2 separate regions of the Homo sapiens genome follow, and region 2 is linked to region 1. The links come from fine-mapping of genetic effects on gene expression. Tissue or cell type: whole blood. Region 1 holds a variant in brackets; the other region holds the start of a gene. All regions are shown on one strand. Distances are from middle to middle.

The links. PIP is the estimated chance that this variant, and not a neighbour inherited with it, causes the effect.
Region 2: KIF27 starts here. The variant in region 1 is fine-mapped to the expression of KIF27 in whole blood (TOPMed, PIP above 0.99).

The regions. Positions count from the first base shown.
Region 1 is chr9:83,885,565-83,893,564 of GRCh38, forward strand. It overlaps KIF27 (kinesin family member 27), which reads right to left. Exons shown (of 18, transcript NM_017576.4): 6 at 5,731-5,937; 7 at 3,520-3,689; 8 at 2,925-3,028; 9 at 1,477-1,632. Among named protein-coding and RNA genes, the nearest start is that of KIF27, 32 kb to the right of the region's middle. The variant C/T (reference allele first, on the strand shown) is at 3,705.
Region 2 is chr9:83,917,783-83,926,059 of GRCh38, forward strand. KIF27 (kinesin family member 27) reads right to left here and starts at 3,650. Exons shown (of 18, transcript NM_017576.4): 1 at 3,589-3,650. LOC105376335 (serine/arginine repetitive matrix protein 1-like) reads left to right here and starts at 3,119. Exons shown (of 3, transcript XM_011519284.2): 1 at 3,119-3,479; 2 at 3,572-3,916; 3 at 6,884-7,103. The coding sequence starts at 3,119. The coding sequence ends at 7,020. RefSeq lists enhancers at 3,182-3,931, 4,546-5,050 and silencers at 3,253-3,632, 3,663-3,812.

The sequences.
Region 1 (8,000 bases):
ATTCATTAATTGTTCAACACACCAATATTTTATGAACCACTAAAAAAATATACAGTGCCAATTACAACATGTTTATTTTATTTTTTTGAGACGGTCTTGCTCTGTCACCTAGGCTGGAATGCAGTGGTGCAATCATGACTCACTGCAGCCTTGACCTCTGGGGCTGAATCAGTCCTCCTACCTCAGCCTTCCAAGTAGCTGGGACTACAGGCGTGTGTCACCATGCCCAGTACGCATCAGTAGTTTTTATAAATTTTTTTTGCAGTGTATTAGAATTGATAAAATATAGTATAGATGTCCTGTTATTATTAGTTGGCAGAAGTAGCTGCTATTCAAGAAAAGTCTTCAGTGAGAGAGCATTAAGGGCATTAAGTTTTTTGTGTTGTTTTTTTTTTTTGACATTTTTTAAGAAGCATCCTCTGCTTAGCTACTTTCCCAAAGCTTTTTCCTTTCTCATTCCTAGTGACATATGTGCTATGCATCATCCTAGCTCCAGTTATGCAGATGTTTAAATGAGTTTGGCCATGCTGCTTCCCCACAGGCAGGATCAAACACCAGTTGACCCCTCTTAGGAGTATCTAGGAGCTGATCTAGAATGGTTTCTCCATTCCCAAGATTTCAGGGTACTGCCTGTGGAAGTTGAGGATATTTACCCAATAGAATCAATGACTTTCTTTCAGAAAGGTTATCTTACTATGGATCTCATTAAACAAGCATGTGTTTGTAGCCTGGTATACCCAACGTGGTTGTTTTAAAATAGAGGATACCAGAGCTTATACAGAGAAGACCCTTTTCTTGCTCATTAGAACCAAGGGCAATTTGGAGCTTTCCTAAAAATCCTCAGAGATGGTGACTAACAAAAGTTGTCAGTGAGTGCTTACTTTTCAATGCCCTCTCACTGAAGACTTCTCTTGAATAGCAGCTGCTTCTGCCAACTAATAATAACAGGACTATATTTTATCTATTTTATAGATAAAATATCTATACTATATTTTATCAATTCTAATACACTGTCAAAAAAAAATTATAAAAACTACTGACGCATACTGGGCATGGTGGCACACGCCTGTAGTCCCAGCTACTTGGGAGGCTGAGGTAGGAGGATTGGTTGAGCCCCAGAGGTCAAGGCTGCAGTGAGTCATGACTGCACCACTGCACTCCAGCCTAGGTGACAGAGTGAGACCCTGTTTCAAAAAAATAAAATAAACATGTTGTAACTGGTACATTAAGTGCCACAGAATTTCAGCACAATGCAGAGTTCACACCAGTTAGAACAATTCAGAGGTGAAATCCCAAAACAACAAAATTCTTCTGATAACTAACCTCCACATATTGGCCTAAAAACTCACCTTGTTACACCAATCCAAGCTAAGTGGATAGACCTGAGCTTCAAAAACTAAAGTAACTGTTACCACATCAGAAGCAATTTTAAGAAGTTTTCTTTCTCATTTAAGCTGGTTCACAAGATACTATTACCTGTTTTTATTAATTCTTTAATCAGATCTTCCTTCATCTTGATGTTAATTGTAAGTTCTCTCATTTTTTGTTTAGCTTCAGTAAGTATGCGTTCTGAATTCTTTAATTTTTGCAAATTCAATTCTTGACTCTCCTGGAGACAATCAATCTTTAAATCTTTAAAAAAAAATGGAGAAATAAAACTATCTGCTGGTAAAATATTCAACAGAAGTAGAGTTAAAAAAAGAAAAGCAGACTCAAAAGCAATTTAGAGGTGGCAGTGGAAGAGACAAAAAGGAAGGGGAGGAAAAAGGGGAAAAAATACACAGCAATTGGGACTCTAGCATTCCAGCTTACAGTAAGAGTTTTTATTTTCTTACAAATTAATACATGTATGTATATATTCTTTCTTAATATCCCATAAGTTCAGACACACAGTTTTTCATTGCCTTTAACATGAGTTATTTGAGATAGGTATAAAATTTCCAGATGGAGAGAGGGGTGAATTTGTTTCCTATCAACTTCTACTTTTACTGTAATTGGAGAATGCAGACTATACCAGGCTACTCAGAGTGTGGTCTAGCACTGTTTGTTACTGTCCTGCACCAGAATGTAAATCAACTATGTCACTAAGCACACTGCTTTAGTTCAGGTGACATTTTTTTCATAGCCAGACTTTCTCAAGGAAGGAACTAGTGTAAGCTCATTTACATTCCGACGTAAGTTTTTTTCCTGGTTGCAGAGCAGTAACAAACAGCTCAAGCATGGCTGCTTGAGTAGCATTTACCTTTATTATTTCCACATTTTGAAATTTATTTTAGTTATACTTAAATTTTTGGCTCATAAAGCCACGTATAGGTTCTTAAAGAGATGCTCTATATTTTCAAAGTGTAGCACTTGTATTATCCCTATTCCCTTATTTTTTGTGGGTCAACCACGCATTGACCAAGAGAGATGAGTTAACAAAATCTCCTACTACCGGCTGGGCACAGTGGCTCATGCCTGTAATCCCAGCACTTATTGATGCATAAAAATTCTTAGCAGTTGTGTACTAAAACATTACCAACACCCAGTACACTAATTGGGCTCTAATGCCAAATACATCATTGATGTTAGGCACAAGTCCCAGTGAAGGAGTAGACACCTAGTACAATTATTTATACTGTATTTTAACATCATCAGGAATACAAAGCATATCAATTCAGGTCTGAATATAAAAATCCTTATTCTGAGGGAGTTAGCCTATATCTCTCGCTATAATTAATTGATAGAAAATCTTTTTTTATTAAGGAGTAAAAGAGTAAAAGAGGTAAAACAGAGAACATAAAAGAAGTTCTACCAACTAGGAAAGCATTTGTACCAAATTCTGGTCTTTGAGAATTCCTGGATGTTTCTTAAATTATCAACTGAGGAAAAAGATAAGTGTCCTATAACCATTAGGTCTACATTATTTAAGAAGATCTATGTACCTTCATTCTCCAAATCTGACTTTTGTGTTTCATCCTGAGTATCACTCAATTCAACAAGGGAACAAACAGAGTCTGGCTTCTGAATCCATGAACGACTTCTACATCTTAAAAAAAAATCAGAAAGTTAACTTATTTGTTCGTGTTTTCTAATCTGCCCTCAAATTAGTTTCCCCGAAAAGTGAAAGTAATGTTAAAAAAATTATTAGTTACATATAAAAACAGAATGTTACTAATATTGCTCAAAATAAAAGGATGCCCCCCCCATCCATGTTGAATCCAGTAGAAAAGTCATGTTTGTTGCCAACGTGGCAGCAGAATAAGGAAATCCAAAAAAAAAAAAAAAAAAAAACCTCTGAAAATTAGAATCTCATTACTATAAAAGCTCTAAAAGCAAAATTATTTTTCAGTTATAAGACTGATGACTTGTGTTCAAATACTATTTTCATAACACATTAGATGATAGTACTTTTAGCAAAAGTTACCTACTCTTCTATTAAACATAAAAGATATACTCCAATGGAAAAAACCTACACTTCTATATTTATTGCAGCATATAATTCTAAATATTTATTAAATCAGTGTATATTTAACATACCTAGTTCCAGATTTCTCTTGGCCTTCTGATTCTTCATCATCACTGTTATCAGAAAATTGGCAGTGGAGGACCTTATCTTGTTCTTCTATGTGACCCAACAGCATCTGACTTCGTGTTCGAAATCCAGCAAATATTCGATCCAGAGAGTACATAGGCGGACTTGTGTGGACCTTGCAAGTGATTCC[C/T]CCACCCAACAACAAAAAAAGTGATATTTTAAAAGTCTAATTTTATCCTATTACTCTAAGTGCTTTTAAAGGGGTTATTAGATTGGCACTCTTAAAATAGCCAATCACTGGAAAATGCTCCCCTCAAACAAAGGTCAAAATTAATTTAACAATACTGTTGTGCCTCACAGACAAATACTTCTTTCAGAATCCACACAGCTCCTTCTCTTCTGGACAACTCTTCTATCTTCACTTACAGAAAACAGTATTCAAAAATGAAACCAAAAGAACGCATGGAAAACATCCTAGCTCTTAAACACAACACAGACACACCCCAACAAATGTACCCTCTTCCCCATCTTCCCAGTTCAGAACACCTGGAGAACTGTGGTGCTGCCGCCAAAGGTCTGCATCCCCTCCAATCCAAATCCTACCACAGGAAGAAACCCAGAGCCGTCTCCACTCCCTCTGCCAGGGCAATATTCCTAATCTGAATACCACAATGTATATACTTATTCTTTATACATGGTAGTTAGGTATAGCTGAATTAAGGCTCTAGGAAAAATATTTAATATATGTCATAGGACAAATAAAATCGTATGGCTAGCCTGGGAGTTTTCTATAGTACAACATTCTTCTATTGGAAATGCACTTTAAATTCTCAAAAAAAAATGACCTTGGAAAACAACAACAATAAATTAGAAATTGCCTTTATACCTTTGTTCTGGTTTCTATTACAAAATATTTCCTCTGCACCATCTCTGTAACCAAATCTCAAGATGACTTCTCTCAAAAGGCAATAAAATCTTAGAGGAGACAGTCCATTTATCAATATAAATTATTATAAGCTGTTAAAATTATAACATATAGTGGAATATGAGTATCACACAGTGTTTAGGATTTAATCACTTGACAATAGGCCCCCGTCATGTATTCTCTCCTAAAAAATCCTACCTGATTCTGAAAATCATCTTATATCTGATTTTTGTGCTTCTGCTGTCAGTCACCTAATTAGATCATCTGTCACATCAGCATCATGATAGATGGGCGTAAAGTTTTTTAGGTGGCCTCCCAATGGGGTATGAGGGAGGGGAATTCTTTAAGAAGAACCAACTCAAGAAGTACTGATCTAACAAATACAACGTACTAGACATGGCTATTTTATCCCATAACTGGCAGGCATCTAGTTTTCTTTTGTGAGAGTTTGGGAATTATTTAAGGAGCAAATAATAAAATCTTTGTTCAGAGTCCAACTTCATTCTCTGGGATTGTAATTTCCTTTTAAAATTTCTTTTTACAAAGAAAACCAAATGTCCAGAGCTATTATAGTATTCATACCACCCAAGGCTGCCTGATGCAAAGTCCATGACACTGCTCATGTATCACTTGCCTTTCATTTCTTATCCCTCTGACTGTAACAACCAGATGGATCTCACGTGAACAAATCATTTCCCTTCATAAAATGAGGAAACAGAAACCAGAATTCATGAACCTGCTAAACCAAAACTCATGAATCTGCTAATTACGTCTTTTCCATAATAGAGATTCTTTGATAATTCTTAAAACTGTGTGTGTATATATTTACCAACCACACACAAACTAAAATTTATATTGATATTTATATTGTCTTGATTATGTCTACTTGGTAAGACTGAACAGCATATAAATATTATTTCAAAAATGACAGACCAAACAAGTTGAAATAAATATCCTCTAACATCTCAACTTTGTGTGGTTAAAGGAAGAAATAAATTCATGTAGATATTAAACTTGGTCATGTCTGAAAATATGGCAAAGGATACCTTTTTCACATTGAAGAAGTATGGACATTATCTCCATCCAACTATTCCCTCCAAATGTAACTGTGTATTCTCTTGTTTATTAGTTTTTTTATTAGAAAGAAGTATGCTTAAAAGAAAAGGTATACACAAAATTCCATAAAATCAAACAAAAAAAATCTGCTGAGACTGTATAAATACACTGTGATATTACACATGGCTAAAATTTTTTTAATCTCCAAATAAGGAAAAGATTGTTTGGACTTTACCTTCCTGGAATCTTGTCTTGATGGGATATAAATATAATGCCCCAAATGAGTATCAAATGGTACAGTATATGGTCTCCTTTCAGGGATCCTGGCATCTGGCCCATCTCCACAATTTTCTTTAGCTGAAGAAGTCACTGACAGGTTAAGTTTTGTTAGTTCTTCACTCAGTTGATCCACAAGAAGTTGTTGTTCTATTATTTTTTCATTCTTTGTAGAAGAGAGATGAAAATTTTTAATATAGAGCACTTCAGTACATTTAGATTATGATTAAAAATGAATTTTACATTGACCAAAATCATAACTACTTTAATAATACAGTCAATTCTCATTTATCCAGAGACTAGCTCTCTGGTGTTCACAAGTAACTAACATTGTTCTGAGTGGTAAAACCTTTTTAATAGTAAGGAGCAACAAACACAGCCAAAAAAGTCAAAAGTCAAATACTCAAAGATAACACGCCATCCACTGTGACTGGATGCTTTGCCAACCTGAAGCACTTTGATTAGCTATCTTTATTAAAGTATGGACTTTCTGAGTGAAATCCAAGAAGTAAAAAGAAACAAGAAAGTTCAAAAAGTGGAGAAAGAATTGTAGGCAGCAGAGTTTGCAGCAAAGGAGGCAGAAGGAGGTAACAAGTGCAGGGAAGTGAAAGCCTTAGTGAAAAAGGAAGCCAAAAGCAGACAGATAGAAGATAGCCAACTGATAGTCCTGAGAGGAAGGAGAACTTGGAAATCAAAGGCAGAACAAATTGTGTATCAGGAATGTGTGTGTGTGTTTGTGTATATGTGGTTTAGTATTTTTTGTGTATCCTCTAAAGAAAATTTTTGAAGTGTATCAAATCTAGAAAGCTCTAATGTCAATCTTTGTTTTACAAGCACAAATTTATGTAAATAAGAAACAGTCATTCATCTTAATACTTCACATGTACTACAATGTTGAAATAGGAAAAAAAACCTTACATTTTCATTGTATAAATGCTGAGCAATAAAAATGCAACCTTACTTAAAAATCACGTATTCAGATAATTAAAATATACAACATCAAAGGATTCAATGGAGTTCTTACATTGCCTGGGAAAAGGATAAAAGTACCAATTAATATTAGGGTGCATGGTATACTCTCTAGGATAACCACTAAAAAAAGAGTAAAACTATAACTTCTAAGTTAGTGGAGAAAACAACAGAAAAAGAAAAAATAACCAATGATCCAAAAGAGGGAAAAAGGAACACAGAGGAGGAAGGATAAATAAAAGGCACAATGGTGGATTTTTACCAAAACAGTAATTATGTTAAATTAATGAATGAATAATGAAATTAAAAGATAAAGACTATCAGAAAGGATTTTAAGATTATCTAACCATATGCTGCTTACAAGAAACATATCTAAAATAGACACAGAAAGATTAAAAATAAGATAGAAAAAGAGATACCATGTAAATATTAATCAAAAGAAAGCTGGTGTAGCTATAGTAATGTCAAGGTAAGCTTTAAGGCAAAACTCATTAGATAAGAAGAGGTAAAAATGATTAAAAGAGCAATTCACCAGGATGGTATAACAATTCTACATTTGTGTCCACTTAATAACACAGCTTCAATATTTGTAGTGCAAAAACTATCAGCACTTCAGGGAGAAATAAGACAAATCCAAAATTATAGTAGGGCTGGGCACAGTGGCTCACACCTGTAATCCCAGCACGCTGGGAAGCCAAGGCCAGTAGATCACTTGAGCCCAAGAGTTTGAGAGCAGCCTGGACAACATGGTGAAGAACCCCTTCTCTACAAAAAATACAAGAATTAGCAGGGCATTGTGGTGTGCACCTGTGGTCCCAGCTACTCAGGAGGCTGAAGTGGGAGGACTGCTTGAGCCCAGGAGGTCGAGGCTACAGTGACTCATGATCGTGCCACTGTGCCCCAGCCTGGGTGACAGAGTTGAGGTCTGTCATAGTGGGAGATTTTAACATCACTTTATAAATTACTGATATAACAAAAAGACTTCAAAGGTGAGTAAAAAATGTAGATTTGAATAATAGGATTAACAGTGCCCAATGACTGCAGAATGCATATTCTTCTCAAGTACCTCTGTAACATTTACAAACATTTGCCTTATTCTGAGCCAAAAAGCAAGTTTCAATACATTCAAAGGACTGAAATCAGAGATAGTATGTTATCTGATCACAATGCAATAAAAATTGATTAAAGAAAAATAAATCCCCCATGTCCTGTAAATAAAATAACTATGTTATTCACAAGTCAAAAAAAAAGTCACAATGA
Region 2 (8,277 bases), 32 kb after region 1:
ATACAAAAGTTAACCAAAAATGGACCATAGACCTAAACATAAGAAGTAAAACTACAAAACTCTTAAAAGACAGGAGTAACTCTTTATGACCTTGGATTTGGCAATAATTTCTCAGATATGACACCAAAAGCAATAAAATAAAAAATACCAATTTGAACATTATACATTGTATACATGTACTGAAAAATCACACTGTACCCCATAAATATGTACAATGATTTTGTCAAACAAAAATAATAATAAAAGCAAAAAATAAAGATGAAGTATAGATTAAAAAATAAGTAAGACCCAGCCTGGGCAATATAGTGAGACGCCATGTCTACAAAGAAATTTTTTTTTTCAATCAGCTCAGCATGGTAGTACGCACCTGTGGTCTCAGCTACTTGGGAAGCTAAGGCGGGAGATTGGCTTGAACCCAGCAGCCAGAGGTTACAGTGAGCTGTATCTGCACCACTGCACTATAACGTGGACAACACTATAATGTGGACAGCAGAGCAAGAACTTGTCTCAAAGAGAGAGAGAAAGAGAGAACGAGAGAAATGGGGGGGGGGCAGGACAGGGAGGGAGAGGAGGGAGGGAGGGAAGGAAAAACGACATCAAAATTAAAAACTTTGTGCCTCGAAGGAAACTACCAAGAAAGTGAAAAGACAACTCACTGAATGGGAGAAAATATTTGCAAGACATATATCTAACAAGGAACTTGCAACTAGAATATATAAATATTATAACTCAAAAAGTTTTTTAAAAATTTTAAATAGGCAAAGCATCCGAAAAGGCAGTTCTTCAAAGAAGATATACAAATGAATAATGAGCACATGAAAAGATGCTCACCATCATTAGCTATCAGGAAAATGCAATCAAAATCACAATGAGAGGCCAGGTGCACAGTGGTTCATGCCTGTAATCCCAGAATTTTAGGAGACTGAGGTGGGAGGATGACCTGAGGTCAGGAGTTCAAGACCAGCCTGGACAACATGGTGTAACCCCATTGCTACCTAAAATACAAAAATTAGCCAGGCGCAGTGGCTCAAACCTGTAATCCCAGCATTTTGGGAGGCCGAGGTGGGAGGATCACCTGAGGTCAGGAGTTCGAGACCAGCCTGAACAACATGGTGAAACCCCGTCCTTACTAAAAATACAAAAATTAGACGGGCATGGTGGTGGGCGCCTATAATCCCAGCTACTAGGGAAGCTGAGGCAGGAGAATCGCTTGAACCCAGGAGGCAGAGGTTGCAGTGAGCTGAGATCGAACCACTGCACTCCATCCTGGGCGATACACCAAGACTGTCTCAAACAAACAAACAAACAAACAACAACCACAATGAGATACCAATCCACATCCACTAGCACTGCTATAATAAAAAAGACAGATCATAAGTGTTGGCAGGGTATAAAGAAATTAGAACCCTCATACACTATTTGTGGGAAGGTAAAATGGTATAGCCACTTTGGAAAACAGACTGACATTTCTGCAAAAAGTTAAACATACAGTTATCTCTTGACCCAGCAATTCCACTCCATCAAATGATCCAGCAATTCCACTCCCAAGAGAAATGAAAACATTGTGTTCGCATAAAAACTTACATACAAATGTTCAGTTTTGGAAGGATAAAGCTTATACAAAATTTAACAAGTAATCTATGACAATGTTTGAGTGCAGATGATGAAAAGTAATGAATTTGAGGTGAGGTTAGGTTCTTTGGAAAAGCTGCTGAGTCTTGAAGATTACCATTAAGTAACACAGACAACTAGACTGAAATAATATTTTATTAATAACACTAACAACAATGAATTGATAATATTCACTACCCTTGAAAAAAAAAAAACCATGGCCCAGCACGGTGGTTCACATCTGTAATCCCAGCACTTTGGGAGGCCAGGGCGGGTGGATCACTTGAGCCCAGGAGTTCGAGACCAGCCTGGGCAACATGGAGAAACCCTGTCTCTACTAAAAATACAAAAATTAGGCAGGCATGGTGGCGTGCGCCTGTAATCCCAGCTACTCAGAAGGCTGAAGCGAGAGGATCCCTCCTGAAAACAAAACAAAACAAATGTGAGCCACGATGCCCAGCCTCATTTCTTGGGGTTTTTAATGGTAATATCTATAAAGAATTTGGTTATAAAGGCAACTGAAACTTATTCTAAGCATTAAAAAAAATAATAATGGGGCCGGGCACAGTGGTTCACACCTGTAATCCCAGCACTTTGGGAGGCCAAGGCAGGTGGATCGCTTCAGCCCACGAGTTCCAGACCAGCCTGGGCAACATGGTGAAACCCTGTCTCTACTAAAAATACAAGAATGTGCCAGGCTGTGGTGACGCACCTGTAGTCCCAGCTACTTGGGAGGCTGAGATTGGAGGATCGCTTGAGCCCGGGAGGTTGAGGCTGCAGTGTGCCACTGCACTCCAGCCTGAGTAACAGAGCGAGACCCTGTCTCAAAACAAAACAAACAAACAATAGTAATGGTCCACAAACATAGGGCTTGTAAAACATCAATATACAAGAAATAAAGTTTTTACACAATCCATAGCACTTATACTTCAGATTCTGATCAATTATAGTCATCAGAAACATACGTATTATGTTGCCAATAAATGATTTAAAAAAAAGCAAAATCTGATTGGTCGTATTTAAGTATACTCAACGGGTTTTTGAAATCTGAGCAAAGGCAAGAGAAATATTGAATCCCTCATGTCATGTCACTGGTCAGGAATGAGTGTCTCCAAAAACCGTTGCCATCCCGTACCCTTGATTTCCCAGAAAGCAGTGGTTGTCTTAAATGTGTGGTTTGTTAATTATTTTCATAAAAAACTTGCCAGTAGATGGACAGTAAATCGCATACGGAGCTCAGAAAAGGCCCCAAATGCGTAAAGACGACAAAAGAGTAAAGAAGGGCAAACAACAAGGATTTTCAACACTGGAGACTTAAAAGGTGTTACTTAAAAGGTGTTTCAAAGAAAGAATCTGGGCGCTTTGCTCTTTATAGTCACCTGCCTCCGAGGGAGGGAGCTCTCGGGCTTGAATGTGCCCAAGGTTCAACCTCTACGGTAGGAAATGCGCCCAAGTTTCAACCTCTACGGTGGGAAATGCGCCCAAGTTTCAACCTCTACGGTGGGAAATGCGCCCAAGTTTCAACCTCTACGGTGGGAAAAAGACGCCTGCGATAAAACAAAGCGCTCGGTGGTGGTGGCCCTCGCGTCGCACCTCACGCCGTGCAGCGACACGAGACGAACACAGGGTGCGCTCTGAAAGGCCGGGTCCCGCGTTCCGGTCGATCGGTGTTCCCCGGGACCCGCTCCTCAGGGCTGACCCAACTTCCTCCGGAAGGGGCGCTCTGCCTCTAGTCGCTCGCCGGCTCCCAGCCCCGACCCCAGACCCCTCGGACGCCCCCATAGGCCTAGCTGGCGCCCCAACCGCCCACCCTCCGCTACCCACCCGCGGCGGCCCCGACCCCAAGCCGGAGCCTACTAGTCCCAACGGCCGGCTGGGGGCGCGGGAGCGGCGGGCGCGGCGGGCTGGAGGGCGGGCACCGCGAAGGGAGGGCGCCCCACTTCCCCGCACCGCCCGCCAGGCCCGCCGAGCACTGACCGGCTCGGGACAGCCCAGGCCCCTGTCGGCGAGCGCTGGACTCCTCAGCTTCGCTCTGCCACACCGCGCAGCCGCCGTCCGCGTCTTTTGTTGTCGCGAGTTCTCCTGGCAACCGGCGAAGCCCGCCTCCCGCCGCGTCCTCTCCTGGATGCCGCGTCCTGGCCCCGCCCCCATCCTGGCCACGCCTCCAAGCCCGCCGCGCAGGAGTCCTGCGTCCCCAGGAAGTCCGCAAAGGGCCGGCCCCTGGGCTTGCCTGCAAATCCGAGTTGTGTCCCACCAACGCGCTGGGACCGGTCTGTGAGGCCTGAGCGCAAGCATCTTTCTACGGGTTCGTGAAATGAGTGAGAACGATTCCACACCGTGTTTCAATATCTTAGCTACCAATTCAGTTTATTTTTATTTTTATTGAGTAAAACTTGCCTAACATAAACCATCTTAAAACTCACAATTCAGTGGCGTTTAATGCATTCACAGTGTTGTGCAACCATCACCTCTGTATATAGTTCAGAAACATTTTCATAACCCCAAAAGAAAATCCCCAAACCAGTTAGCAGTCATTCCTTCTGGTTCCCCTCTCCCCACAACCCCAGCCAGCCACTAATCTACTTTCTGACTCTGTGATAGCTTTACCTATTCTGGGCATTTCTTTATTGATGGAATCATTCAGTATATGACCTTTTGTGTCTAGCTTCTTTTGCTTAATGTTTTCAAGATGCAGTCATGTTGTAACATCTATCAGGACTTCTTTTCTTTTTTTTCTTTTCTTTTTTTTGAGACCGAGTCGCGCTCTGTCGCCCAAGCTGGAGTGCAGTGGCGTGATCTCGGCTCTCTGCAACCTCCACCTCCCGGGTTCAAGCGATTCTCCTGCCTTAGCCTCCCGAGTAGCTGGGATTACAGGCGCGTGCCACCACGCCCGGCTAATTTTTTGTATTTTTAGTAGAGACGGGGTTTGTTTCACTGTGTTAGCCAGGATGGTCTTGATCTCCTGACCTCGTGATCTGCCCGCCTCGGCCTTCCAAAGTGCTGGGATTACAGGCGTGAGCCACCACGCCCGGCCCTTTAGATGGAGTTTCGCTCTTATTGCCCAGGCTGGAATGCAATGGCGCCATCTAGGCTCAACGCAACCTCCACCTCATGGGTTCAAGCGATTCTCCTGCCTCAGCCTCCGGAGTAGCTGGGATTACAGGCATGAGCCACCCTGCCCGGCCCTATCAGGACTTTTTAGGGCTGAAAAAATTCCATTGTATGGATATAGACATACCACATTTTGTTTATCCATTCTTCAGCTGGTGGTGGACATTTGGGCTGTTTCCATGCTGCTATGGACATTCACATACAATATTTGGATGTCTGTTTTCAGTTCCTTTTTTTTTTTTGAGATGGAGTCTCGCTCTGTTGCCCAGGCTGGAGTGCAGTGGCGCTATCTCAACTCACTGCAAGCTCCGCCTCATGGGTTCAAGCAATTCTCCTGCCTCAGCCTCTGGAGTAGCTGGGATTACAGGCATGTGCCACCACCACGCCTGGCTAAGTTTTCTGTATTTTTAGTAGAGACGGGGTTTCACCATGTTGGTCAGGCTGGGCTCGAACTCCCGACCTCAGGTGATCCGCCCACCTTGGCCTCCCAAAGTGCTGGGATTATAGGCGTGAGCCACCGCGCCGAGCCTGTTTTCAGGTCTTTTAGGTATGGACGTAAGAGTGGAATTGCTGGGTCGTATGGTAATATTTAACTTTACCAATTTAGTTTTAAATGCTTTAATGCCTCCTGTTTTTAGTAGCACAATCTAAGCATCTTCAAAAACCCTTCCTTCTCTCATGAAATATAGGAATGAAGGTGGGGGAAAAAAGCTGACTATTTTATTTATAGTTTTTATTTTTTTTTCTTTTAACTGAATTATTTAAAATTTTAAAAATTCAGTCTGGGCACAGTGGCTCACACCTGTAATCTCAGCACTTTGGGAGGCTGAACTGGGAGGGTCACTTGAGCCCAGGAGTTTGAGACCAGCCTGGGCAACATAATGAGACCCCCCATCCCTACAAAAAATCAAAACTTAGCCAGGTGTGGCTGAGTATGCCTGCAGTTCCAGTTACTCTGGAGGTGGAGGTGAGAGAATGGTTTGAGCCTGGGAGGTCAAGGCTGCAGTGAGCTGTTGTTGCACCATGGCATTGCAGCCTGGGTGACAGAATGAGACTCTACCTCAAAAAAATAATAAATAATACATAATTTTTAAAATTCTAAGATTTCATTTATACACATACCTGTGTATTGAGTCATGATGTCAAGGGAATGTCTGATAGTGGCTCAGTATCAATCAAATGCGAAAGCCAGTGTCCTGGGCTTGCTTTTCAGATTGGGGTGATGGATTATTTCCTAGTCTTCCAAGGTTCCCCTCATGATTGGTGGAGATTGTGGTTGCCCAATTTGACTATAGGGCCAAGTTGCATTTTTAGAACTCTTTGAAAACAAACAAAAACTCACATCATGACTGTGAATTGGTAAGTCAGACTGGTCTGCTGACAAAACTTCAATAATTAATAGTACGTAACAATTTAAGTCTAGGAATACCCAGAAGTCTCAACAGAAGTTCTCAAGAGGCCACACAATTGCAGAGAGGAGGTCAGCAAATGCCCAACAGCATTAGAATGGGGCATTTTCCATTGTCCCCAAATTGATGTCTTGAGTCCAGAGTTAGAGAAAAGGAGTTACTTAAGTTCCCCACACTGTGAAGTGAATGCCAGTCATTGCCAACCCCTCCTCCCTAGGATTTATAGCAGGACTAAGCTAATTCCATTCAAATTCCAATCCTATCTCTTTTTTAAGTATCTGTAAGAAAGACTCGGCAGTGGAGTCAAGGGGTCTTGGGCCTTGTGGGTTGGAGAGTAAGAGGCCTCCCACCTAAGTCAAAGGAGGCTCTAAGAGTGACGGGCAAACCCTGTGTGATGTGCTAGAAGAGGAAACCTGGCCTTCTGGTGGGAGCAACTAGGGGAAGAAGTGAGCTGATCTTCTTCTCAAGAATGGAGCGAAGCAACTGAGATGTTGCTGTAGTAGAGCAGTCTGTGTTCCTGCAGTTTAGCAGGGGGAGAAGCTGTGATTTGCTCATGGTCCAGGGGATCCTTTGGAGGGTACCCAAGCTTGAGCCCCATGAAGATTGTCTTGAGGACTGTCTCCTGCAGATAAGTCCCCATCAGTAAGAGGCAGTGGGAGGAGCTGGGCTTGGGATTAGCAGAAGTAATTGAGCCAGTGCTGGATCTTCTTAAGGGAACTAGGTCTTCTCCTTAAGGGAACTGTATCTTTCAGGTCCACTGAAGAACTCTGCATATGTCCCATGGGAGACCAGCTTTGGGCTGCTTGTCCTACAGAGAAAAACATCCATGCCCAGTCCACTTTACCAGAAAAGCAGTAACAAACAGAAGATTACAGCTAGACCAAATTAAATAAAGAAATATGTGCCCTTTTCGCCTAAATCATCTTCCCTCACCCATATTTTGAGAAAAGCTGGATCCAGGAAAGAAAGGAAGTATTAAAGGAAGTATTAAGGAAACCACAGATCATACCTCTTCTCCCACTTTAAATTCTTTTAATGTTGCTATAATGTTTGATGAATTCCCTTAATTTCTCTGGCGGGGAGAAAAGAAGCTTTATACTTTAAAAATGGGGTTTCTTTAAAAATGGGGGTGGGCGGTGGTGCACGCCTGTAATCCCAGCACTTTGGGAGGCTGAGGCGGGCGGATCATGAGGTCAGGAGTTCGAGACCAGCCTGGCCAACATAGTGAAACCCCGTCTCTGCTAAAAATACAAAAATTAGCCGGGCATGGTGGCATGGCCCTGTAGTCCCAGCTACTCAGGAGGCTGAGGTGGGAGAATCGCTTGAACCCAGGAGGCGGAGATTGCAGTGACCCGAGACCATGCCATTGCACTCCAGCCTGGGTGACAGAGTGAGACTCCGTCTGAGAAAAAAAAAGGGGGAGGGGTGGTTTCTGTGCCATCATTTTGCCTTTGGCTCCTTAACTTAGTGCAGAGAATGTTAGCTTTCCTAAGGAAACATACTGCTTGGGTCCTGTCAACTGGTGCCAGGTGGATTTGCTTGGCCCTATGGTCAAATTGGGCAACCACAATCTCCACCAATCATGAGGGGAACCTTGGAAGACTAGGAAATAATCCATCACCCCAATCTGAAAAGCAAGCCCAGGACACTGGCTTTCGAATTTGATTGATACTGAGCCACTATCAGAAATTCCCTTGACATCATGACTCAATACACAGGTATGTGTATAAATGAAAACAAGGCCAGGCACAGTGGCTCATGCCTGTAATCCCAGCACTTTGGGAGGCCAAGGCAGGTGGATCACTTGAGGTCAGGAGTTCGAGACCAGCCTGGCCAACATGGTGAAACCCCTCTCTACTAAAAATACAAAAATTAGCCGGGTGTGGTGGTGCGTGCCTGTAGTCCCAGCTACTCGGGAGGCTGAGGCAGAAGAATCACTTGAAACCGGGAGGCAGAGGTTGCAGTGAGCCAAAATCATGCCACTGCACTCCAGCCTGGGAAACAGAGCGAGAGTCCGTCTCAAAAAAAAATAAATAAAATAATAAAAATAAAAATACAAAAATTAGCTGGGTGTGGTGGCACGAGCCTGTAATCCCAGCTACTCGGGAGGCTGAGGCAGGAGAATCACTTGAATCCTGGAGGCAGA